7 linked regions of the Homo sapiens genome follow. The protein of the gene in region 4 purifies or fractionates together with the protein of the main gene of each other region. This does not show direct contact. Each region holds a gene or a part of one and is shown on either strand. Other genes may lie near its edges. The genes, in order: COLGALT1, SRSF11, GLRX, TPR, PRDX3, NUP133 and TMOD3.

What was found.
Region 1: the proteins of TPR (region 4) and COLGALT1 fractionate together in Homo sapiens (co-fractionation; one large-scale study listed by BioGRID). This does not show direct contact.
Region 2: the proteins of TPR (region 4) and SRSF11 fractionate together in Homo sapiens (co-fractionation; one large-scale study listed by BioGRID). This does not show direct contact.
Region 3: the proteins of TPR (region 4) and GLRX fractionate together in Homo sapiens (co-fractionation; one large-scale study listed by BioGRID). This does not show direct contact.
Region 5: the proteins of TPR (region 4) and PRDX3 fractionate together in Homo sapiens (co-fractionation; one large-scale study listed by BioGRID). This does not show direct contact.
Region 6: the proteins of TPR (region 4) and NUP133 fractionate together in Homo sapiens (co-fractionation; one large-scale study listed by BioGRID). This does not show direct contact.
Region 7: the proteins of TPR (region 4) and TMOD3 fractionate together in Homo sapiens (co-fractionation; one large-scale study listed by BioGRID). This does not show direct contact.

Annotation. Positions count from the first base shown.
Region 1 is NC_000019.10:17,562,149-17,565,648, reverse strand, and holds part of COLGALT1 (procollagen galactosyltransferase 1 precursor), read right to left. Parts: intron 1-3,500. UniProt on the Homo sapiens protein: Beta-galactosyltransferase that transfers beta-galactose to hydroxylysine residues of type I collagen. By acting on collagen glycosylation, facilitates the formation of collagen triple helix. Also involved in the biosynthesis of collagen type IV.
Region 2 is NC_000001.11:70,234,880-70,238,379, forward strand, and holds part of SRSF11 (serine/arginine-rich splicing factor 11), read left to right. Parts: intron 1-621; coding exon 622-671; intron 672-2,545; coding exon 2,546-2,673; intron 2,674-3,500. UniProt on the Homo sapiens protein: May function in pre-mRNA splicing.
Region 3 is NC_000005.10:95,813,349-95,816,537, forward strand, and holds the end of GLRX (glutaredoxin-1), read right to left. Parts: coding exon 3,165-3,189; 3' UTR 3,159-3,164; exon of another isoform or gene 3,148-3,158; intron 1,610-3,147; exon of another isoform or gene 1,042-1,609; 3' UTR 501-1,041; downstream 1-500. UniProt on the Homo sapiens protein: Has a glutathione-disulfide oxidoreductase activity in the presence of NADPH and glutathione reductase. Reduces low molecular weight disulfides and proteins.
Region 4 is NC_000001.11:186,365,254-186,368,753, forward strand, and holds part of TPR (nucleoprotein TPR), read right to left. Parts: intron 2,730-3,500; coding exon 2,633-2,729; intron 1-2,632.
Region 5 is NC_000010.11:119,172,313-119,175,812, forward strand, and holds part of PRDX3 (thioredoxin-dependent peroxide reductase, mitochondrial isoform a precursor), read right to left. Parts: intron 2,281-3,500; coding exon 2,139-2,280; intron 1,561-2,138; coding exon 1,425-1,560; intron 174-1,424; coding exon 70-173; intron 1-69. UniProt on the Homo sapiens protein: Thiol-specific peroxidase that catalyzes the reduction of hydrogen peroxide and organic hydroperoxides to water and alcohols, respectively. Plays a role in cell protection against oxidative stress by detoxifying peroxides.
Region 6 is NC_000001.11:229,484,342-229,487,841, forward strand, and holds part of NUP133 (nuclear pore complex protein Nup133), read right to left. Parts: intron 3,273-3,500; coding exon 3,125-3,272; intron 2,188-3,124; coding exon 2,030-2,187; intron 1-2,029. UniProt on the Homo sapiens protein: Involved in poly(A)+ RNA transport. Involved in nephrogenesis.
Region 7 is NC_000015.10:51,899,153-51,902,652, reverse strand, and holds part of TMOD3 (tropomodulin-3), read right to left. Parts: intron 2,499-3,500; coding exon 2,355-2,498; intron 762-2,354; coding exon 617-761; intron 1-616. UniProt on the Homo sapiens protein: Blocks the elongation and depolymerization of the actin filaments at the pointed end. The Tmod/TM complex contributes to the formation of the short actin protofilament, which in turn defines the geometry of the membrane skeleton.

The sequences.
Region 1 (3,500 bases), on a different chromosome or scaffold from region 4:
ACCCAGGCTGAAGTGCAGTGGTGTGATCTCGGCTCACTGCAACCTCCACCTCCTAGGTTCAGATGATTCTCCTGCCTCAGCCTCCTGAGTAGCTGGGATTAAATACAGGCGCGCACCACCATGCCCAGATAATTCAAACAGGTCTTTGTACGCTCATGTTCATGTCAGAATCCCAACAGCCAGGCCGGGTGCAGTGGCTCACACCTGTAATCCTAGCACTTTGGGATGCCAAGGCAGGCAGATCACATGAGGTCAAGAGTCCAAGACCAGCCTGGGCAACACGGTGAAACCCCGTCTCTACTAAAAATAAAAATAAATAAAAATAATTAGCCGGGCATGGTGACACATGCCTGTAATTTCAGCTACTCGGGAGACTAACGCAGGAGAATCGCTTGAACCCAGGAGATGGAGGTTGCAGTGAGCCGAGATCGTGCCACTGCACTGCAAACCTGCGCGACAGAGCAACACTCTGTCTCAAAAAAAAAGTCTCAACAGCCAAAAAAGGTGGAAGTGACTGAAGTGTGTCCATCAACGGATGAGGAGATCAACATAACGTGGTCCACCCAGACAACGGAATAAGAGTCAGCCATACAAAGGAAGGAAGCACTGATCCAGGCTGTAATGAACCCTGAAAACTCAATGCTGAGTGAGAGAAACCAGACACGAAACGCCATATAGTGTGACATTCCATTGACAAATCCGTAGACAGGAAGCAGATTAGTGGCTGCCAGAGCCTAGGGGAGAGGAATGGGGAGTTGGGGAGTGACTGCTGATGGGAATAGGGTTTTCTTTCTGGGGAATGAAAATGTTCTAGAATTAGAGGTGGTGGTTGCAAAACAAATAAATATATATGTGAACTGACTTCAATTAAAACAAACAAGAAAGAGGAGAAAGTGAATCTCTCCAGGAGATACAATTAAAATTTAGATGCTGGCCAGGGGCGGTGGCTCACGCCTGCAATCCTAGCACTTTGGGAGGCTGAGGCAGGTGATCACTTGAGGTCAGGAGTTCAAGACCAGCCTGGCCAACATGGCGAAACCCCATCTCCACTAAAAATACAAAAACTTAGCCAGGCATGGTGGCGGGCACCTGTAATCCCAGGTACTCCGGAGGCTGAGGCAGGAAAATTGCTTGAACCCAGAAGGCAGAGGTTGCAGTGAGCCGAGATGGCGCCACTGCACTCTAGCCTGGGTGACAAAATGAGACTCCATCTCAAAAAAAAAAAAAAAAAAAAAGTAGATGTTTTTCTTTCTTGTTTCATATGTATATCTATATTATACACACACACACGTATATATGTTTATATACATATATAGATATATATACATATACACGTATATATGTATATATGTATACACACACGCACACACATACACACACACATACACATATACGAAGCTTAAGAAAGGGTCTCGCTCTGTCACCCAAGCTGGAGTACAGTGACACAATCATGGCTGATTGCAGCCTCCTACTCCTGGGCTCAAGCAATCCTCCCACCTCAGCCTCCCAATTAGCTGGGACTACAGACACAAACCAGTACACCTGGCTAATTTTTTTTTTTTGTTAGTTTTTGTAGAGATGGGGGGGGTCTCACTATGTTGCCCAGGCTGGTTTTGAACTCCTGACCTCAAATGATCCTCCCACATTGGCCTCCTGAAGCACTGGGATTACAGGCGTGAGACACACCCAGCTCGTATATTTTTATTTATTTTTTTTACCTGCAAGTAACATCCATAGCTTTTGTAAAAAGAGAGAGAAAGGGGGACCTTCAAACAATCATTTTAAAACATTAGACAAACTATTTCACATTCCAATATGGGTTCCAAAGTCCCCAGTTACAAAAATATAATTTTGTGACCAGGCGCAGTGGCTCACACCGGTAATCCCAGTAGTACTTTGGGAGGACGAGGTGGGTGGATCACCTGAAGTCAGGAGTTCGAGATCAGCCTGGTCAGCATAGTGAAACCCTGTCTCTACAAAAATACAAAAAAAATTAGTCGGGCCAGGCGCGCTGGCTCACGCCTGTAATCCCAGCACTTTGGGAGGCCAAGCCGGGTGGATCACGAGGTCAGGAGATCGAGACCATGCTGGCCAACACGGTGAAACCCTGTCTCTACTAAAAATACAAAAAATTAGCCGGGTGTTGTGGCGGGCGCCTGTAGTCCCAGCTATTCAGGAGGCTGAGGCAGGAAAATGGCATGAACCTGGGAGGCAGAGCTTGCAGTGAGCTGAGATCGCACCACTGCACTCCAGCCTGGGCGACAGAGTGAGACTCCGTCACAAAAAAAAAAATAGCCGGGCATGGTGGCAAGCATCTGTAGTCCCAGCTACTTGGGAGGCCGAAGCAGGAGAGTCACTTGACCCCAGGAGGTGGAGGCTGCAGTGAGCCAAGATCGCGCCACTGCACTCCAGCCTGGGCGACAGAGTGAGACACTGTCTCAAAAAAAAAAAAAAAAAAAAAGAAACACGAAAATATTATTTTGTGTCAAAAGCCACTTTGAGTTTTGAACCAGCACTTTGAGTTCCACCCCGGTTTGCTGAGGGAAAAAAAAGCTAAAGCCAGGCAACCTCAAACCACAAAAGCAAAATCCTAGAGGCAGGACAAGGCAGCTTTGTGTCAGAAGGCTCTGGAAGGCTCCAGATCCACCTCTCTGCCTCCTTGCCAGTTCTGACACCCCACCAGGCAAGATGTCCCCTCCGTCAGCCTGTTTCCTCACCTATAAAATGGTCTGATAAGGCACCAAGCGAAAGGGTCCCCTCAGGAGCTCCATCCGTCCTCCCTAGATGTGGCACTGTCCCCGTTCCTCTCTCCCTGGCACCTTCACATCCAGTGTCAAAGCAGAACCTGTCTCCTTCACCTCGTGACGCATCCTGAACCCCCTGCCTTTCTCCACGGCCCCCACCCCATGCAGGCCTGTCCATCAATCGCTGATACCCTGCTTGGGCCTCTACTCCAGCTTCCTGCTAGTGTGTGGCTTTTTTTTTTTGAGACATAGTCTCACTCTGTCGCCCAGGCTGGAGCGCAGTGGTGCAATCTCAGCTCACTGCAACCTCTGCCTCCCGGGTTCAAGACATTCTCCTGCCTCAGCCTCCCAAGTAGCTGGGGTTACAGGCGCGCATCACCATGCCAAGCTAATGTTTATATTTTGGTAGAAACAGGGTTTCACCATGTTGACCAGGCTGGTCTCAAACTCCTGAAGTCAAACAATCCACTTGCCTCAGCCACTCAAAGTACTGAATTTAGAGGCATGAGCCACCGCGCCTGGTCCACAGAGGCTTCTGAAAATCTCAAATCAGAACACAGACCTCCCCTGCTCACACACCCTCCATGGCTCCCCATTCCCCTCCAAGTAGACACCAAGTGCCTCCACTGGCCTGTGTAGTTGGACCTCTAGCCACCACTGCATCGTAATCACTTTGCTCACTTGACTCTTTGCTTTTTCTTTTCTGCTTTTTGTTTGTTTGTTTTAAGAGATGGGCTGGATGTGGTGGCTCACACC
Region 2 (3,500 bases), about 120 Mb from region 4:
GGCTATGTTGTAGTAATTTTTTTTCTTGTTTAAACTTGTCAGAGCTTTAAACAGTCACTGAATGACTAACTCCTTTATCCATTAATGGATTTCTTTTATATAGTTCAAAATAGAAAATAGATTCACAAGAAGCCAGTACATTATCAGTGTGTCATAGAGTCAGAGTAAATAGTCATGAAAAGATAAGAATGTGGTTTATAATTTTTCTATCATGGAAATTTTTCTTTTATTTTAATTTAGCTAACCTTTTTTTCTGAAGTTCTTTGTAGAGGTCTTTTGCATTATATTGGCTAAGGTGTTTTGAGTTTTACATGTTTCTTTATGTCAAAAAGTCTTAAAGGAGACATAATTCTATAATACCTAGACTGTTCAGCCTCATAATCTTTAGATAACTTGCTAAAGCTGCTCTATCCAATACTGTAGCTACTGATGTCACCGGTTTTTGTTTTGTTTTGTTTTGTTTTTTGTTTTTGTTTTTTCTTTTTTAATGTGGCTACTAAAAAATTTATGTTTCATGGCATGTAGTCTGCATGGATTTCTGTTGTTCAGTTTTCTGCCTAGAAAATATCGGTCATTTATTGTTTTATGTATTCTCATTATTCTTATGTTTTATTTTTACAGTCTCTTGCTGCAGATCAGTTGCTGAAGCTTATGAGTACTGTTGATCCCAAGTAAGCGTTTTTTCTTTGTTTTCATTGGTGATGTGGTATCTGAATGTCTACAGAATTAGAGTTTTTTTGATAGCTTATAAGAAAGTTATCAAGTTATCTTTTCTCAAGACAAGCAATATGTATTGTTACCTAGAAACAAGGAGAGAAATACAGAAGTAAGTAAGGTCCTCTAAACTATTTTGTTTCAGTGTCATTTGAGTCTTGAATAGTAATTGTAAATGACTTATACCTGGATGATAGCAAAAGAGCTAATAAGGGACAACTTCGTTTGAAGATCAGAGGCTGAGTCCTGAGGATAGTAGGAGTTAGAGGCAAAGCTGAGGGAATCACTATCCCAGAGCAAAGTAGTATTACATATTATATAATTAATAGCCAACATTTTATTTTAGGTGCTTTTGATAAGTGCTCTTCATGCTGTCACAGAAATTGTTTCCGACTTGATGATGTGACAGATTCATCAGTTTTTTTCACTGGTTATTTGTTGGCATAATAAATTTGAACTTTATACCTTTTCCCCTTAACTTGGTGAAAGTCACTATCAGTAAGTGAGAGAGCATGAAAAGGACAGAATCGTTGGACTTCAGTAGTTAGTGGACTTTTTTCTTAGAAATTATCTAAAAATAAAACCAAGCATGTACCCATCACCCAGCTTATAAAATAAAATAATACCAATACAGTTGAAGCTTCCTATATACCCATTATTTATTACATTTCCTGTTCTGCCCACAAATAACTACTAAATTTGTTGTCTATAATTTTTTTTTCTTTCTTCTTTCTTTTTCTTTTTTTTTTTTTTTTTGAGACGAGTCTCACTCTGTTGCCCAACCTGGAGTGCAGTGGCGCAAACTCAGCTCACTGCAACCTCCGCCTCCCAGATTCAAGCAATTCTTTTGCCTTAGCCTCCCAAGTAGCTGGGACTATGGGCACAAGCCACCACATCCGGCTAATTTTTTGTACTTTTAGTAGAGACGGGGTTTCACCGTGTTAGCCAGGATGGCCTCAATCTCCTGACCTCATGATCCACCCGCCAAGGCTTCCCAAAGTGCTGGGCTTACAGGCATGAGCCACCATGCCCGGCCTACAATTTTTTTTTTACATGTGTAAACCTGTAAGGGGCATCTTTAGCCTTTCCACTCAAGACTTCATGTGTAATTTTGGTAGGCCTTTGGCCTCTGCCTCAGTTCCTCCCCACCTACAAAGTAAAAGGTAATGCTCTTCCCCAAAAAATTACTATGTCATAAATTTTTTTTTTTTTTTTTTTTTTTTTTTTTGAGACGAAATCTCACTCTGTCGCCCAGGCTGGAGTGCAGTGGCGCGATGTCTGCCTCCCGGGTTCAAGCAATTCTGCTGTCTCAGCCTCCCGAATAGCTGGGACTACAGGCGCCTGCCACCATGCCTGGCTAGTTTTTTGTATTTTGAGTAGAGATGGGATTTCACCGTGTTAGCCAGTATGATCTCGATCTCCTGACCTCGTGATCCACCTGCCTTGGCCTCCCAAGGGGCTGGGATTACAGGCGTGAGCCACCACACCGGCCCAAAAATTTTTAATTTATATGAATAAAAGTTCTTAGCATCAGCATATTTTCTTGTACTGGCATTTCTAAAAATGTGTTTGTTTATGGAAAGTTAATGGATGTTCAGCAAAATAGGTATTTTTCTAATTCCAGATGACTCTTAGTCATTAAAACAAATACTTGTAAATATTCAAAACAGTGCTATGCTATATGTTGTTTACCAAAGTTATCATGGAGTCCTCCCCTCCCTTTTTTTGAAGGAATATTTTGCTAAAATAATGTTATATACTTAAGTATTTATTTGAAATGCTCGTGTGCATTTTAAAATATTTCAGATCCCATTTCTTGGTTCTGTTTCAGGTTGAATCATGTAGCTGCTGGTCTCGTTTCACCAAGTCTGAAATCGGATACCTCTAGTAAAGAAATAGAGGAAGCTATGAAAAGAGTACGAGAAGCACAGTCCCTAATTTCTGCTGCTATAGAACCAGGTAAACAATGTTTATGCAATTTTGTTGTGTGATTCTTAGCAAAAATGATTTTGACATAAATGTGGAATTGTGTTGAGTGACACCCTAGTCGTTTAAAATGTTGTAAACTCTGATAAAAGATTGTATAGTGGAGTGCCACTCAGACGTATTTGGAGACAATTCTGGTGGTCACAGGAGTACCAACTGCATCTAGAGGGCAAAGGACCAACATGTTGCTAGATATCCTGCAACAAACAGCACAGCCTTCCACAGCAGTGGTTAATCTAGTCCAAAATGTCAGTAGGATTATCTAATACTTGAAACGATATTTTGTTTTTCTTATTATTTATGTTTTTCTAAGTTGGGATAGCCTAATTTTAATTTTTTTCATTGATCAAGAGAACCTAGTGAAAATGCTTCTGTTTAAAATGATATTTCTTTAAAGAAAATTAGTTGTCTTCTTTGCAGATTGTCTTTTTGAGAGTAAATGAATAGATATCATATTATCTGCCCATATATATTTAGATCTATGGCCCTGGATTTTCTTTCTTATAAATATCTTGTTCATTAATAAATGGGAATGTTTTTTAATGTGCCTATTGTTAGGAAAATAATTTTAAAGTATAATAGTGGATAAACTGATACCAAATGCTTTATATGTATTATGTTATTTAACCAGGAAAATGTCAAATAATTAGCCACAGTTACATGGCAAGCAGTAGGAACTTTTAGATAGCACAGCCGGGTGTATGTAAAGTTTATGACACACCGTGTTCTAACTGCTGTTTATATTGAAAATATATGATTAAAGTGACTGAATGTAGTTTCTTTATGAACTGATGTTTTTA
Region 3 (3,189 bases), on a different chromosome or scaffold from region 4:
CCAGAAGAGGGAACGATGATTTTTCAGTCAAAAGGCCATGAGAGGAGAGAGAAAATATAGGGGAAATGATCTGTAAATCAGGCCTTGAACGAGGAGGAGTTTCAAAGTAAAACAAAGAAGAAAAGGCATCTCAGGAGAAAGAAACACAATGAACATGGACAAAGAAGTGTGAAAGTGCAGGCAAGTGGTCCAGAGTGGATCAGATACTATAACCTCCGGTGGGAGGGCTTTCATATTGTGCAGTGTGTAAACTGAACAATTATCCATAGCAATCCTGGTGTAAACTGAACAATTATCATAGCAATCCTGGTTGAAGGGAGTGGTTAGGGCCCACAAAAGAAAGAAGCGAGAAGTACAAGGGCCTTAAGTGGGAAATGGCAAAAAGGAATATGAAATGAAAAAGACTGTTATTAAACCCTAAGCATTATTCAGTAAGCCAGGGCTGGCATTTATTTCAATATGAAATTTCAAAATTATATCAGCCATTTGTACTCAGTGAGTGACAGCAGCACGTGTCTTTATTTATAATGGCAGGGCCAAATATAAACACAGTTTTAAGTTAGTGTATTTCGCATAACATTCCTTAATGTCTTGAGAACATGCAAATGAATTGGACAAAAATCACTGAATCATCTATAGGTTTTTTTTATTAGAAAAGAAATTAAGTGTTGTCACTAGAGATTGAAGGAAATTAACAATCTTACAATTCTAGAACAGGCAAACTTCATGATAAGGGATTCTTAAGTTTTCAAAGTGTAGGAGCTCTTTCACAGATACACTCTTGGTGTAGGGGGCTGTAAGTTTTATCAGATGTTTTACATTTCATGCTTTAATCTTTGCTGGTAGTCTAAATAAAATAAATACACAGTGTTCAGGATTATCTGGATAGCCATCTTAAATAACAGAGTGTTCCGCATGACCACAGCCTCTGCACTTGTGCCTCTGATCCATATGACACCAAGACCAACTATGCTTTTCATATGATTTCTCCAATTGGGTCCTGTGACCTTTCACAGAATTGTTGAACATTTCCTATGAGATCTGTGGAGGACAAGGTGGAGAACACTGGTTCAGAGCAGTGATTTTCAAGGTGGGATGGGATGGGGTGGAGTTGAGTGGAGAGATGCATGTAGTTAGAAAGAACACATTCAAAATACCCACTGATTTCATAATACAAACTCCATAAAGTCAAGCAGCAAAATGATTTTAGCTAATGGGCAGTAGCAGATAACCAACTGTGGATTCATCATTGTGGAGAAGGAGTCTGGATAAACATAGTTGAAAAACACTGGCTTAGAGGTAGAGACATGCCGACACATGGAGAACAGTAAGAAACGCATGCCAAAGAGGACAATTGAGGGTCAGTGAGCGAATCCTGGGCCAGAACTTGTCACAGTCTTCTGAAAACCAAAGAGCACATCCAGAAGAAAACCAAGATGGCCCGTCAACCTTCTTGGCCCTGTGATTAAGAGCAAGTTGGTCCACTTTTAAATACTGAGCCAAAAGAGGAAAAAAGCTGTTTGTGCCCCCAAATTCATCCACCAGAAGTGCTGTCATCATTTGCAATGCCATCCAGCTCTTGAGGAGGGACGTCAGCATGGGGCCTGTTCTGCCAGGAAAGAAAGAAGGGATCTCCTTGTAAGGCAAAATCCTTCCTTTCTCTCATTACCAGAACACTTACACCTGCCATTTAAACACACTCTGTTGCAGATGGCCTTGAGATGCAGCTGCCAGTAAAATACTGACAGCATAGAACACTGAAGGAAAAGGCCAAATGCAAATAAGGAGACTTTCTGAATATGGGGGACTCTAATGCCCACACCAAAATAGAAGCAGTTGGAGAAATAACATTTCCCATCTTCTCTCATTCTTAATCTAAGCCTAAATTGCTAAACATGTCCCAGAATAGGAAACCATTAATTGGGTTTGAGTGCTTTTAGTACCAGTGGTAAGGCCAGGAAGTGAACTCAGACAGACATAGGGTGCACCTGCTGTGATGATATCGTAGAATTCTGATTAGAAGATTTATAGCATTGACTATTTCATTTCAGAGAAATCAGTGGTATTTTTTCAGACCTTTTTCCCCCTTCTGTTGCTATGCTGAGTAACCATCACAAATAATGTATACTCATTGCCCAAGAAATGAGTTATTAATTAGCAGGCAATAGATACCCCTCCAAGAACATTTTGGTTAAAGAACCATTCATTTCTCCCTCAACTAAAGCAGCATTTACATCTCTCTGGGTACAGGTCTCTGAATTGGCCTGCTTGGGAGCTAGCTAGCGCTAGCTGTGCTGGGGAACTGGGGGAGGGAGGAGCTCAGACTCCAAAACCATCACGGTTCCCTTCTGAAATGTTCATCGCCCTGTGGTTTTCCACAGAGCCAAAGATCTCCTTTAGGTTACTGATTTTAGAAAACTTTGTTTTGGCTTTTGGGAAGCCAATTAAATAGAGTTGATTTGCCAAGTGAACACAGGTAAAGCCAAAATGACCTGTGTTTCACATTGCGTTTTGAATAAATCCAAATTGTTTACCATGGCCTGGGTGCTCTGGCCCCTGCCCACCTTTCTCGCTATTCTTCCTTTTCACTGCACTTCATTCACTCTATTCCTGCTTTCTTTCTGTTCCACGAACATCCCTTACCTGTTGCCACCTCAGAGCCTTTGCACTTGCTATTCCCTCTGCCTGAAAAGCTCTTCTGCTTCATCTCTGCATAGCAGTCCCCTTGTTAACCAGGTCTCAGCTCAACCCTTCCTGAGAAAGGCCCTCCCTTACCATGTTAGCTCAATTTTCTCCCCACCCCATGACATATTCTGTCACATTATTCTATTCTATTTCAGGATTTGCTTGTTTTTGATCTGTCTACCTCTCTAAAATATAAGTTCCAGGTTATCATTTTATGCATCATTATATTCTCATGTGTCTGGCACATGCTTAATAAATATTTCTTAAATGAAGCTTGAGTGAAAGGATTTCTCTCATTGACACGATCTCTTTGTAAAGTGTGAAATTCATAAGTGATTGACATCACCATTCCTCAACTCACCCCAAATCATTTCTTCCCCCAACCAGAATGCTGTCATACAGTATAACAAACCACGACAGAAGAATTCCACGGTCTCCCATGTTCCTGGCCCAGCACCTCACCTGCCACTCACCTGTGGTTACTGCAGAGCTCCAATCTGCTTT
Region 4 (3,500 bases):
CCCAGCTAATTTTTGTATTTTTAGTAGAGATGGGGTTCTGCCATGTTGACCAGGCTAGTCTCGAACTCCTGACCTCAGGTGATCTACCTGCCTCGGCCTCCCAAAGTGCTGGGATTATAGGCATGAGCCACCGTACCTGGCCAAGGGGCTGCCTTTAAAGTTCTTTTGACTTTAGACACTGTCCCTGGCCACCCAGAACCCAGGAGTTCAACATGGAAGGTGTCAAAGCAGTCTACTTGCTCCCAAACATGTTTCTAATTCAGCCTTTAGATCAGGAGTCATAAGGACCTTTACGGCTCAATAGAGATGATACTTTGTGAAAAGAAAATGTCAACACTGTGGAAGAGAACCCCAACAGAGAAAATATCATGAAAGTTTTAAAGGATAACACACTGAAGAGGCCATCCCTTCTTTTTCATTACAGAAAAAGTTATGAAAGCCATCAAGGCTGAAATAATAAATTCCTGTTGGAGGAAACTCTCCAGATGTTGTGCATGATGTCACAAAATTTGTAACAGAGCCAATCAAAGAAATCATGAAAGAGATTGTGGATATGGCAAAAAAAGTGGGATGAAGGGTTTCAAGATACGGACCTTGGAGAAATCCAAGAGCTAATAGCCACCATATCAGATAAATTAACAGAAGATGACTGGATGGAGATGAGTGCTTCCAAACCAGTGCCAGACGATGTGGAAAAAGAATGTAGAACTAGCAGTGTCAGAAAACATATTGGTAACAGACTATCTGGTGGAAGGGTTCTGATTACCCAAGACTGCTTTTGATTTCTTTTATGACATGGATCCTTCTCTTACATGGGCACTGAAACTATAGCAAACGGTGGAAGGAAGATTGGTAATGTATAGAAACATTTTTAGAGAAATGAAAAAGCAAGTCAGACAGAAATTAGGCTGTATTTCGTAAAGTTACATTGAGTGTGCCTCCCTCTTCTGCCTCCCCTTCTACCTCTGCAACCTGACCCAGCAAGACCAACCCCTTTTCTTCAGCCTAGGTAATGTAAAGACAAGGAGGATGAAGATGGTTGTGATGATCCACTTCCATTTAATGTACAGTAAACGTATTTTCTCTTCCTTATGATTTTCTTAACATTTTTTTCTCTAGCTTACTTTATTGAAGGAGCACAGTATATAATACAGATCACAGACAAAACGTATGACAATCTACTGTGTATGTTATTGGTAGGGCTTCTAGTTAACAGCAGTAGTTAAGTTTTTGGGGAGTCAAAAGTTACACATAAATTTTCAACTGTGGGGGGAATCAGCAACCCTAACCACTGTGTTGTTTAAGGGTCAACTGTAGTTCTCAACTCTCTTATTTTAACTTGTTTCTGCCATAGTTAATTACAAATTCAATTTCTACAAATATATGACAAAAAATTGAAATTTGTGTATCCAAACTTGTGAATTATCCAAATTTATTTTAAATACAGTGTGTTAAGCTAAATATTCAACGTTAACCTTAATTTTCCTGATATATATCCAAAGACCTATTAAAATTTTATAAATAATCATTAAGCTAAAAAGCACTAATATAAAAACCTACTCAATATGGAATACACATTTTTAAAAAACTATCTATTAAATATCTAGATTTTATGAATTCGTTTAGTTGTAACTACCACTTGTTGATCAACACACTCAAGTATTTTGAAGGAACTCTTGTGAGACTGGGAAAGTATACTTAACTAATGGAATATTATTGTATAATGATATAAATATCTGAAAATCCTTTCTTTTATAGAAATAAAAAAATTTCAAAAACCATTAAAAAAAAAAGAACCCAAAACACCTTTTTTTTTTTTTTTTTTTTTTTTGATACGGAGTCTAGCTCTGTCGCCCAGGCTGGAGTGCAGTGACGCAATCTTGGCTCACTACAACCTCCGGCTCCTGGGTTTAAGCAATTCTCTGCCTCAGCCTACAAAGTAGCTGGGATTACAGGTGCGTGCCACCATGACTGGCTAATTTCTGTTATTTTTAGTAGAGACGGGGTTTCACCATCTTGGCCAGGCTGCTCTTGGACTCCTGACCTCATGATCCACCCACCTCAGCCTCCCAAAGTGCTGGGATTACAGGCGTCAGCCACCGTGCCTGGGCACCAAAGGAAACTTCTTACCATTAACTGCTTCAGAGTCAAGTTCACCTGACTACATCAGCTGTATTATATACTACAGTCTATGTTTATGTATTTTATGTCTCTGCCTCCTTCAGTCTGTTTATAAATATAGGCTGAGTATATGTTCTTATATTGAATGCTTATTATATAGCAAGGATGTCCATATGAAATAAAGAACAGTAGTTCAGCCTTTGCAAATATTTAAAGTGCTTCCAATTTGACATTATGTACAGCATTGTAGTGAAAATCTTTGCATGTAAAATCTGGTCCAAATTACTACTTCTTTGAGATGTTCTTCACTTGTGCACTTTCTAGACACTTCTTTAAACACTTGACAATGATTTAAAGATAAATGAGTAGGAGAAATAATAGGATATGACAACTCTATACTCAACCATAACAAAAAAATATCAGCAACAGAAATGGGCTGAGCACTAACTCCTAGCACTAACAGAAGAAAAATAAAGGAATGGAGCTAAAAGCTACAAGCACTTCTTCATACCTGTTAAGTATTCAAGTTCTTGAGATAGTCTCTCATTGGTTCTAATTAAGTCTCTTTTCTCAGCTTCTAATTCTTCCTTTGTTCTTGTAAATTGGCTCTGTCATATAAAGAAGTAATAAGTAAGAAAATCAAGTAGAGCAATACAGGAAAGCGAACATAGAATTGTCACTTTAGTTAACATCAGCTGTAGTGTAAATGACTGGCTTTCTCTTATAACTTACACATCAAAGTTAAAAAATACCCGTAATTCCAATGTTTCTATTTAAATTTTGGATTTTTAAAACATTTTTACTAGGCTTATGAAAATTTTTCTCATATCTCTTTTAATCACATGGAAATGTCCTAATAACTTAGAATATCACTGTATTTACACCTTAGTTCAAATTATTTTTCAAGAAAGATTCCTAAAAATTGAATTACTTAAAACTTTTAATATATTTTGTCAGCCAGGTGCAGTGGCTCATGCCTGTAATCACAGCACTTTGGGAAATCAAGCTGGGCCGATCATTTGAGTCTAGGAGTTCAAGACCAGCTTGGGCAACACAGCGAAACCCAGTCTCTACAAGTAGAAAAAAACAGCCAGACATGGTGGCACATGCCTGCGGTCCCACCTACTCAGGAAGCTGAGGTGGGATGATCATTTGAGCCCGGGAGGCAGAGGTTGCAGTGAGCCAAGACTGCATCACTGCACTCTAGCCTGAGTGACAGAGTGAGACCCTGTCTCAAAAACAAAAAACTTGTCAAACTGCTTCCCAGCAAAACAATGGCAATCTACATGTTTTTGAGTTAGAAATATCTATCTCAAGCTACCTATGTCAGAACTGTAGGTTGCCTTTTAATATTCTTGTTTCCTGTGTAGAAGCTTTTT
Region 5 (3,500 bases), on a different chromosome or scaffold from region 4:
ATCCCCTAAGAAGCAGAATGATACTAAACATGAAAAATAATCTTAAGTTCATCAGAAACAGGATCTTACCTTAGTGCAAGACCAGAACCTTCTAACAGCACACCGTAGTCTCGGGAAATCTGCTTAGTTAAGTCTGACAAGAGTGCGATGTTCATGTGGCCCAAACCACCATTCTAATCAAAATGCAAACATGACTGTTAGAATGTGTGGCCTCACAACATTCTTGACCACGTACCACAATGTTTGAGACCAACAGTAACGGCGATAGGTAACAGTAATTCAACAACGGGCCAAGCACTGCTTACTCTATTAACCTACTGCCTCCTCGAAACCACCCTGGAGAAGACACTATCAAAATGAGGAAACTGAGGCAAGAAAAACCTAAGTAACTTGTTCCAGGTCACAGCTAGAAAGGAGCAGAAGGAAGATTTACACCCGGCTAATACTATAGACCTTTTCCAATTTTTTTTTTAAGACACAGAGTCTCGCTGTCACCAGGCTGGAATGCAGTGATGCAATCACAGCTCACAGCAGCCTCAAACTCCTGGGCTCATGCAATCATCCTACCCCAGTCTCCTGAGTAGCTGGGACTACAGATGCTTTTTCTAATTCTTTATTATTTTATTTATTTATTTATTTATTTTGAGATGGAGTCTCGCTCTGTCGCCCAGGCTGGAGTGCAGTGGTGCGATCTTGGCTCATGGCAACCACCGCCTCCTGGGTTCAAGCGATTCTCCTGCCTCAGCCTCCCGAGTAGCTGGGACTACAGGCGCCCACCACCACACTTGGCTAATTTTTTTTATTTTTAGTAGAGATGGGGTTTCACCGTGTTAGCCAGGATGGTCTCGATCTCCTGACTTTGTGATCCACCTGTCTCGGCCTCTCAAAGTGCTGGGATTACAGGCGTGAGCCATCACGCCCGGCTGCTTTTTCTAATTCTTAAAGCATTCTTTTAAAGGCTAATTTTCTCAAACATAGACATGGAAGAGTAATAATAAAAAAAATACCTTGAGTAGGCCAGGTGTGGTGGCTCATGCCTGTAATTCCGGCACTTTGGGAGGCCAAGGTGGGCGGATCACCTGAGGTCAGGAGTTCGAGACCAGCGTGACCAACATGGAGACACCCCGTCTCTACTAAAAATACAAAATTAGCCAGGGGTGGTGACACATGCCTGTAATCCCAGCTACTCGGGAAGCTGAGGTAGGAGAATCGCTTGAACCCAGGTGGCGGAGGTTGCAGTGAGCTGAGATTGTGCCATTGCACTCCAGCCTGGGCAACAAGAGTGAAGCTCCGTCTCAAAAAAAAAAAAAAAAAAAAACCCAACCCTTGCGTAATTTGATCTTGATAGTCCAGCAGCATAGCTAGAAATTTAGATTCTTCCAAGCAAGTTTATAAGAGCAAAAGCTAGGGGTACAATGCCATACCTTTCTTGGTGTATTTATCCAGGCAAGATGGCTAAAGTGGGAATCCACTGAGACTGCGACAACTTCACAGTTCACGTCGTGAAATTCGTTAGCTTTGTCACTAAAAGCAACAATTTCTGTAGGACACACAAAGGTGCTGGAAAAAAAGGATAGAAATTCTCATTAGAGCATTTAAAAACAAGGATTTTAACAATTAGTGGTCTAACAACTAGTTCAACTTGCTAAGGGTAAAAAAGGCAAAATGGTTTACCATCCTCACTGGACTATAGTGTTGTGCTGGCAAAAGTACTACTACCTCCCCTCACCTTTTTATTTTTAGGAATTGTATCAAAAAATGGGGAAAGGGAACACATATTTTAAGAAAAAAAAATTACAGTTCAATAAAGTTGCTTTTTGAAAAAAATCATTTTATTATGCCTACTTTTCTCATTTTTCCCCAGACCAGTGAAAACTTTTTCATAGACTGGCTTAGGGAAGCAGTGCTCCAGAGCACAGAGGTGTACTATAAAGAAAGCTGTCCTACCCCACCCCCGAAGTTTATCACTTGTAAACAAGCTACAGATCCCAGCTGTAATCAACAAGGCCATCAGTGATAAAGGGTCAGAAAGAATCCTTCCTTTCACAAGGGTATCTAGGGATAGACAATTCAGTGTGGGAACAGGATATGTGCTTGCTCTCAGAATGACACGAAAGCATCATAGAAATTACACTTACAAATCCAAAGGATAGAAGAAAAGCACCAAATATTTCCCCTTAAAGTCATCAAGGCTTAGGTCTTTGAACTCTCCATTGACAACGGCTGTACCCTTAAAATAGGGTGCATGCTGGGTGACAGCAGGTGCATGGCATGAGGAACCTGAAAAAAAACCCACACTCATATGGAGTTCATCATTTGCTATGTCAAGCACCTATGATTTTATTTAAACTTCTCATAATTAATTAGTAGTATAAAGTGCTTAGTATAAATCAAAACATTCGGTTCAACTGTACATCTTAGGCACAGTCATCCTTTGCCACCTGTGGGGGGATTGGTTCTAGGATATCGAAATCTACAGATGCTCAAGTCTCTTACATAAAGTGGTGATTTGCATATAATCCACACACACCCTCCAGTATACTTAAATCATCTCTAGATTACTCATAATACCTAATACGACGTAAATGCTACGTAAATAGTCGTTAAGCTGTATTGTTTAGGGAATGACAAGAAAAAAAGACTTTGTGTTCAGTATAGACACAACCATCCATTTTTCCCTCCCAATATTTTCGATTCAACCAACCACAGATGCAGAATCCAGATACAGAGGGCCAACTGTAATTTCTCCTTCTATAGTTTTAGATTGTGCACAAATTCAATTCCAACTGCTACAGAAACTAAAAAGAGGAAGACAAAGTAGGGATAGAATTAAGGAAGACATGAGACTAGAGATGGATTTTAAATATGGTTCAGATTTTGTCAAGTCTAGATGGGATGGGGCAGATGGCATGTAGGAAACAGCAGGAAGGAAGACAGGACATGTGTGTGGAGCAGCGTGTGGCAGTCTAATGAGAACAGAGAGTGTCTAAGGGTACGGAGTGAAGAGCAGGCAGCAGGCAGGAATGGTTGAAGGCCATGTTGCAACAGTCCTTAAATACTAGGCTGCTGGGTCTTCTTAGCAGGAAAGATAACAGAGTCAAGGGCGGAGTCTCGCTCTGTTCGCCCAGGCTGGAGTGCAGTGGCACAATCTCAGCTCACTGCAAGCTCTGCCTCCTGGGTTCACGCCATTCTCCGGCCTCAGCCTCCCGAGTAGCTGGGACCACAGGCGCCCGCCACCCCGCCCGGCTAATTTTTTGTATTTTTAGTAGAGATGGGGTTTCACCGTGTTAGCCAGGATGGTCTCCATCTCCTGACCTCGTGATCTGCCAGCCTCGGCCTCCCAAAGTGCTGGGATTACAGGCGTGAGCCACAGTGCCTGGCTGAGATGGGGGTTTTTAGGAAGATTAGTCCGGCAGGAGGGAAAGAGGAGCAGGAGGAAGGGGGAGACATGTTAGGAGGTGGTTTCAGTGATTTTTTTTTTTTTGAGACAGAGTTTCGCT
Region 6 (3,500 bases), about 43 Mb from region 4:
TACACTAACATTAATGATAGCTGATGAGTTAAAAAAAAAAAAATTTATGTTTCAAGCAAGTTTACGAATTTGTGTTGGGCTGCATTCAAAGCCATCCTGGGCCGCATGCAGCCCATGGGTTGTGGGTTGGACAAGCTTGGTCCATACCAATTATTCATATACTTATTGAAACACTATAAATAGCATCAAATGATCAACCAAAGTCATACAGAAAAGGTACAGGTAATTCAGGGATTATGTTGTAAGTAAAATAATTTGGACATTTCATCATAATTAACAGAATCTTTTTATAGGTTTGCTCTTACACGACTCATCACAGTGTATACTACCTAAGCATAATGGTTGATTACAAATTTAAACAACGGTTTAGAAAAATTTTAAAGAAATGGAATACTATAAAATTGCTTCAGAATGTATAACAGTATTATAATAACCATACAATTACAAAATAGATATTAATCCTTTTTTGTAATCGTATTAATTACAAAATACAAGGTATTTTGTACTTTGTATAATTTTGTATAATTACAAAATACAAAATGCAAGGTATTAATCCCTTTTGTGAAAAGAAAAAAAAGTTAAAAATTGTTTCTTTCCTTTAAAACTACACTTAATCACTTTAATTTGAATTACAGAGGTAGTCTATATATTTCATACACTATTCAAATGGAAATTACCCCAAACAGTATTAATTATTTTTAGTCTTCTGTAAAAGAATGATAAAAATCTTATGGATAGGATATTTCAGGTTTCAAGACAACAGAATAAAATTGGTAATTTTTACCTGGCTATTCCTCTCAAAAAATCATCCCAGAATAAAAAGAAACAGAAATACAAGCTCCTTGGAAATATCTGTGATACTAACTACAACAAAGGAAGATAGAAAGCAGAAGGAATGGGAAATGGCCCCGCTGACAGGAGATGAGGCCACCTATGCATGGTGCAGAGGACAGGTCCTGAGGATTTGAGGACAATAGAAAAGGGAAGTTCTGGGATGACAGCTGTGCAGATGGAAGGTTTCTGGAGACTTGACTTTGGGAAAAACTACATTGAGGGGCACTCTACAGAACTCCTGGAGTGTGTAAAAAGATTAAGTCACATATGAAAGGAAAGTGAGAAAATACAAAACGAGGTCATTATACACTCCAAGAGTCACACAAAGTTCTATAATAAAGGACATGTAATCAGTATTTGGGATCAGCAAACCATAAACAATATTTACATTGTCATTACAATGAAAAAAATTTATGTTAGAATGATAAAGGCAGAGGAAGGAGTATAAGGTAACCCAAAACCTCATTTTCTGTAGTAGAAAATCAACAGATGCATCAGGAGACAGGAATATATGTACATTACTTAGATATATGGAGAAAAATACCAGAATAAATCACTAAAAGGCTTAAATGTAGTTGCTCCAGGCAAAGAGGACAGAAGGGATGAGGAAGATAAAAAGAACTAATGTCTGCATCATTACGTCTTTGAAAACTGTCTCAGTTTTGAGACCATTTGTATAAAATAATCTGATAAAACTAAAAATTAGGCTGGGCATGGTGGCTCCACGCCAGTAATCCCAGCACTTTGGGAGGCCGAGGCGGGAGGATTCTTGAGCCCAGGAGTTTGAGACCAGCCTAGGCAACATAAGGAGATCCTGTCTCTACAAAAAATAAAAAATTAGCCAGGTGAGATGGCGCATGTCTGTAGTCCCAGCTATTTAGGAAGTTAAGAGGGGAGGACTGCTTGATCCCGGGAGGTTGAGGTGAGGCTGCAGTGAGCTATGATTATGCCACTGCACTCTAGCCTGGGCAACAGAGTGAGACTCTGTCTCAAAAACCAAACCAAACCAAAAAACAAAAAATTAGCCAGGCACCTACTGGGAAGTCTGAGGCAGGAGGATTGCTTGAGGCCAGGAGTTTGGGGCTGCAATGAACTACGACTGTGCCACTGCACTCTAGCCTGGGTGACAGCGTGAGACACTATCTCTAAAAAATAAATAACATAAAAACTTCAAATTCTTATCGAATCACATTACCTCACTGTTTGGTCCAGCAACTGAAGATGCTAAAGACCCTTCCAAGTCTTCTGCCAATATAGACACATTTTCCCTTGAAGTAATAGACACCAGTCCACTGTTTCTAGAAAAAATGATAGGAACACCACCACAGGCACCAGCACCTAAAACACTATCTCCTAAAAGAAAGGAAAACAGAGTCAAATACATCTAACAATAACAACAAAATGCTATGTAAAAGCTACCACCCTAAGCAGAAAATCATCTTGATGATATATTAAGCACATTTTTTCCTTTACAACATTAGTCCTACTTCGAACTCATCCTTTACATCCCAGAATCAAATGCTAAGAACCGGTTGCTATCTGAAGAAGCAGGCTCTGTGTCTTTCAGCTTTAAGGACAATAAAAACTAGCCTTGCCAGACAGCAGTCAGTCTAGTAAGCCAAAAAAGAAAATTATTCCTTCTGCAAAACTCAGAAGAAGAGCTTTTTCAATCCTGTGGAGTTCTCTTAATTCTGACTTTAACTTACCACATCAGTCAATGGGGACTGGAAAAAAAAAAAAAAAAAAAAGGTCTAAGCCTACCTGGCACCTTAGTAACATCCTACCCACCCTCTGTCAAGGTTCTTGTGCTGGGACTAGAAAACCTGGGTTCCATGCTGTTGCCTACCTGCACTCTGTCCTCTGCCCAACCCCTTCAGCTAAGTATCTGCTTGGTTCTTCTTCAATCCTGACCAGCCCCCCTGCATAAGTCCAGCACCTGAAGCTCTTCTTATCTAGGGGTGTGGAAAAGTTAAAGCATCAACTCAGAATATGTCACTTTTACTAACTAGGAATAAGCAATTACTTCTCTTGGCAATAGTTTTTTGCTTCTTGGCATCTTCTCCTGGAACAAATGTTACTATCTTTGTCTGTAAATATAATAGTTTGGAAATTCTAGTACCCTTTTGGTTTCTTAGTAGGGTTATGGCTTCAGCTGCTGTAGTTGTGGTATGAAATGTCTCAGAAACATTTGAAAGCAGCATGCTTGAAGTGACATTCAGGGAAAGAGAAAAAAAGCACTCAGAATGACTAATGAGCTCACCAATCATGCTTTCTAAAACTGCTACTGTACCTTGTGCATTAAAGACAATTTTCTCCTGGGGAAGAGAAAATTTCCCAGTTCCTGTGGAGCACACATAGACAGCACTTTCGTTATACAGATAGGCAGTCTGGTTTGAAAAGTTTGGGACCGTCAACTGACACAAAATCAGGTCTTCAGACTGAAAGTTAAATTTAAGATTACATTTAACAAGAAGTAAAACAAAAATATTTGTATGATTTTTTAAATTCATTTTTGTACATTATTTCATAAAAATATTTCACCAATTCTCTTTGTAAAAATCTGAACACTACCCATGAGATGATTAACAAAACATGACAGAGTAAGTTTATAAACATCAATTAGACATATATTTTGTTGACTTGCTTATAATTTGCTTTTTTAATTT
Region 7 (3,500 bases), on a different chromosome or scaffold from region 4:
AAAAAAAATACAAAAATTAGCTGGGCACGGCGCGCACGCCTGTAGTCCCAGCTACTCGGGAGGCTGAGGGAGGAGAATCACTTGAACCTGGGAGGCGGAGGTTGCAGTGTGCCGAGATGGCGCCACTGCACTCCTGCCTCGCAACACAGCGAGGCTCCGTCTCAAAAAAAATCAACAACAAAAAACCTGGGTGAGAAATATAATTATTCTCTATTTTATATATTTCTATATCCACATTCTATCATATAAAATTGAATTTCTATCTGGGTCCGCTTGATTAAAAGGGCAAAAAACTTTCCGATAATGTTGAAATCTTTGTTTCAATAGTTCCAAGGACTGATCTGTAACTGAGAACAAATTGTTTGTTGTAGAAAACTGGTCACTTAAAACTATGAAATACGCTTGTCACAGGAAGCTGATTTTACCCATTGACCCAATCATCACAACCTCACTTTAATTGAACTTGAATTCAATCAGTATATAAAGGACCATGCAGATTTTAGAAACAAAGGCCAAATAACTTCTCTGTTAGAATTTATTCTTAAGAGGGAAAGAAGTTCCCCCAATACGTTAGCTTGTGATAGAACTCAGAAACTTGATCGATACTATGTCTTACCTAAGTCATTGTTTTTTGTTATAGCATTAGCTGCTCTGGTTCGTGGTCCCTGCTGTGTAAACTGATATCCAAATTTAAGGATATTTGTATTTTCCTCAAGCATCTTGGCCATTTCCAATTCTACAGCTGTCCCCAACTGCTGCCTCTGGAGTAATTAGAAAAAAAGAACAATATTAATAAACTAGATCAAAATACTTTTCAAGGTAAATTAAGACATTCAGGCACATGCTAATTCTTTGATCTCTTTAAATGTTCCCAATTCCTACAACATATACATAGTTCAGTAGTTCCAAGTACTGATTTGTAACTGAGAACAAATTGTTTGTTGTAGAAAACTGGTCACTTAAAGCTATGAAATGTTTGTCACAGGAAGGGGATTTTACCCATTGACCCAATCATCACCACAGCCTCACTGGAACTTTATACACACACACACACACACACACACACACACACACACACACTAAACTTTTTAAAGTTCAGTAATATGATCATATAGACATCAAAAAAGTGTGAATTACTATAATGACATATCACTTCATACCCACTAGGATAAGTATAATAAAAAAGATAGATAATAACAAGTGTTGGCAAGAATGTGGAAAAATGGGGACATTGCTGAGAGGAATGTAAAATGGTACAGCTACTGTGGAAAACTGGCTGCTGCTCAAAAAGTTAAACATAGAGTTACCATGTGACCCAGCAATACACTCCTAGCTATATACTGAAGAGAAATGAAAATCTATGTCCATGTTAGAGTTTGTAATGAATGTTCACAGCAGCATTATTTCTAGTGGCCCGTATGTGGACACACCCCAAATGGAATAGAATATTATTCAGTCATAAAAGAATGAGGTCCTGATGTATGCTACAATACAGATGAACCTCCAGAACATTATGCCAGGTGAAAGAAGCCAGGCACAAAAAGATCAAATATTGTTTGATTCCACAGATATAAGCTGTCCAGAATAGGCAAATCCTAAGAAACAGAAAGTGGATGAGTGATTGCCAGAGCCTGGTGAGAGGGGTGAATGGGGAGTGACTGCTAATGGGTATGGGGTTTCTTTTTGGGGTAATGAAAATGTTCTGGAATTAGTGGTAATGGCTGCAAAACTCTACAAATATACTAAAAACCATTTAGCTGTATACTTTAAGAAAATGAATTTTACTGTATGTAATTATATCTCAATAAAAAAATGAAAAACATGGATTATGAAGCACTGGGTTAAATTTTAAGACATAATCCTCTTTTCCACCTTCATAGTTTACAAAATGTATTTACTTTGAAGGACTGAAGGAGACATTTAACAAATATTTTTTCAAATAAATGGAGTTATTTTTTCAAATAAAAAAATTAATAGCTACTCTGGATGGAAACATTTCTAACATGTATCTCTCTGCCTTTTACAAAAACCCTACAATGTGGACCTTGCCAGCACAGAGCTGAAAAATTGGAAGGTGGACTAGGTCACATGTAAGAGTCCTCTCAGTTCAAACTAGATAGCCATCTAAATTCTCTTAAAATGATCTAGGGAGAGTATACACCTTTACATTGTATACACTGTTATATACACTGAGTTAATATTCTAGATACCCCAAATGTCAGCTCTCCTTTCAGCCCAGCATCTTCCAACAGGGATCCCTGACAGCCCGCCTCCCATCCCCATCCTGAGTCGCCAAGCCCTACACAGCAGCGTGGGCTGTAGCTTCCTCGACGTTATTATTGTAGAACATTGACCTGATTGTCAATCTTGAGCTCTGCCAGGGTTTCATTATCTCTTAACGCATCAATCAGTGCCAGAATCCCAACTCCCGTGATAAAGTTGGACTCCACATTTAAGCTCTTCAAAGTTTTGTTCACTTTCAGCATTTCTGCAAAAGCCTAGAAATTAGAGAAAATATTAAGAGATTAAAATTTGATACAGTACCTACTACATATTGTACATGCCATAAATAAATACATTAATTAACTGCCTTAATGTTTGTCATTAGTTGTTTCAGTTTGACACAGTAGCCCATAGCTCTCACATGTACAGTTGTCCCTCAGTATTTGTTGGGGGTTGGTTCCAGGACCATCTGCAGATACCAAAATCTTCAGATGCTCAAGTGCCTTATAGAAAATGGCATAGTATTTGCATATAACCTTCACACATGCTCCTGTATACTTTTCATTACCTCTAGGTTACTTAATATACCTAATACAATGCCTACACATCACTTCATTTTTGTGGATTCAACATAGTACCTGGCATACAGCAAATTCAGATTTTGCTTTTGGAAATTCATAGAATTTTTTTCCAAATATTTTTGATCTGAAGTTGGTTGAACCCATGGATGACTGTATCTACTTTTCTTTCTTTTTTTTTTTTTTGAGACAGGGTCTTGCCCTGTCACCCAGGCTGGAGTGCAGTGGCAGGATCACAGCTCACTGCAACCTCTGCCTCCTGGGCTCAATTGATCTTCCCACCTCAGCTTCCTGAGTAGCTGAGACTACAGTTGTGTGCCACCATGCCCGGCTAATTTTTGTATTTTTTGTAGAGATGGGGTTTCACCATGTTGCCCAGGCTGGTCTCAAACTCCTGGGCTCAAGCAATCCACCCACCTCGGCTTCCCCAAGTGCTGGGATTACAGGTGTGAGCCACTACACCTGGCCTGTACCTATTTTTCATATGTACCCAGTCATAATCTTTTGATTTTTTGGTCACATGTAATTCCCCGTTGGTGACATTCTCTACTCCTCATTCCCTACTTCATGCTTCTTTCTTCTGTCTCTCTCACTCTTTCAGTTTCTGTGTTAGACCAACTTCATCAATGTCGCTGTAACATCTTTTCTTATTTGGGTCTTGCTGTAGCTGGATCATGTGAAGCCAAAATGAGGGTAAAT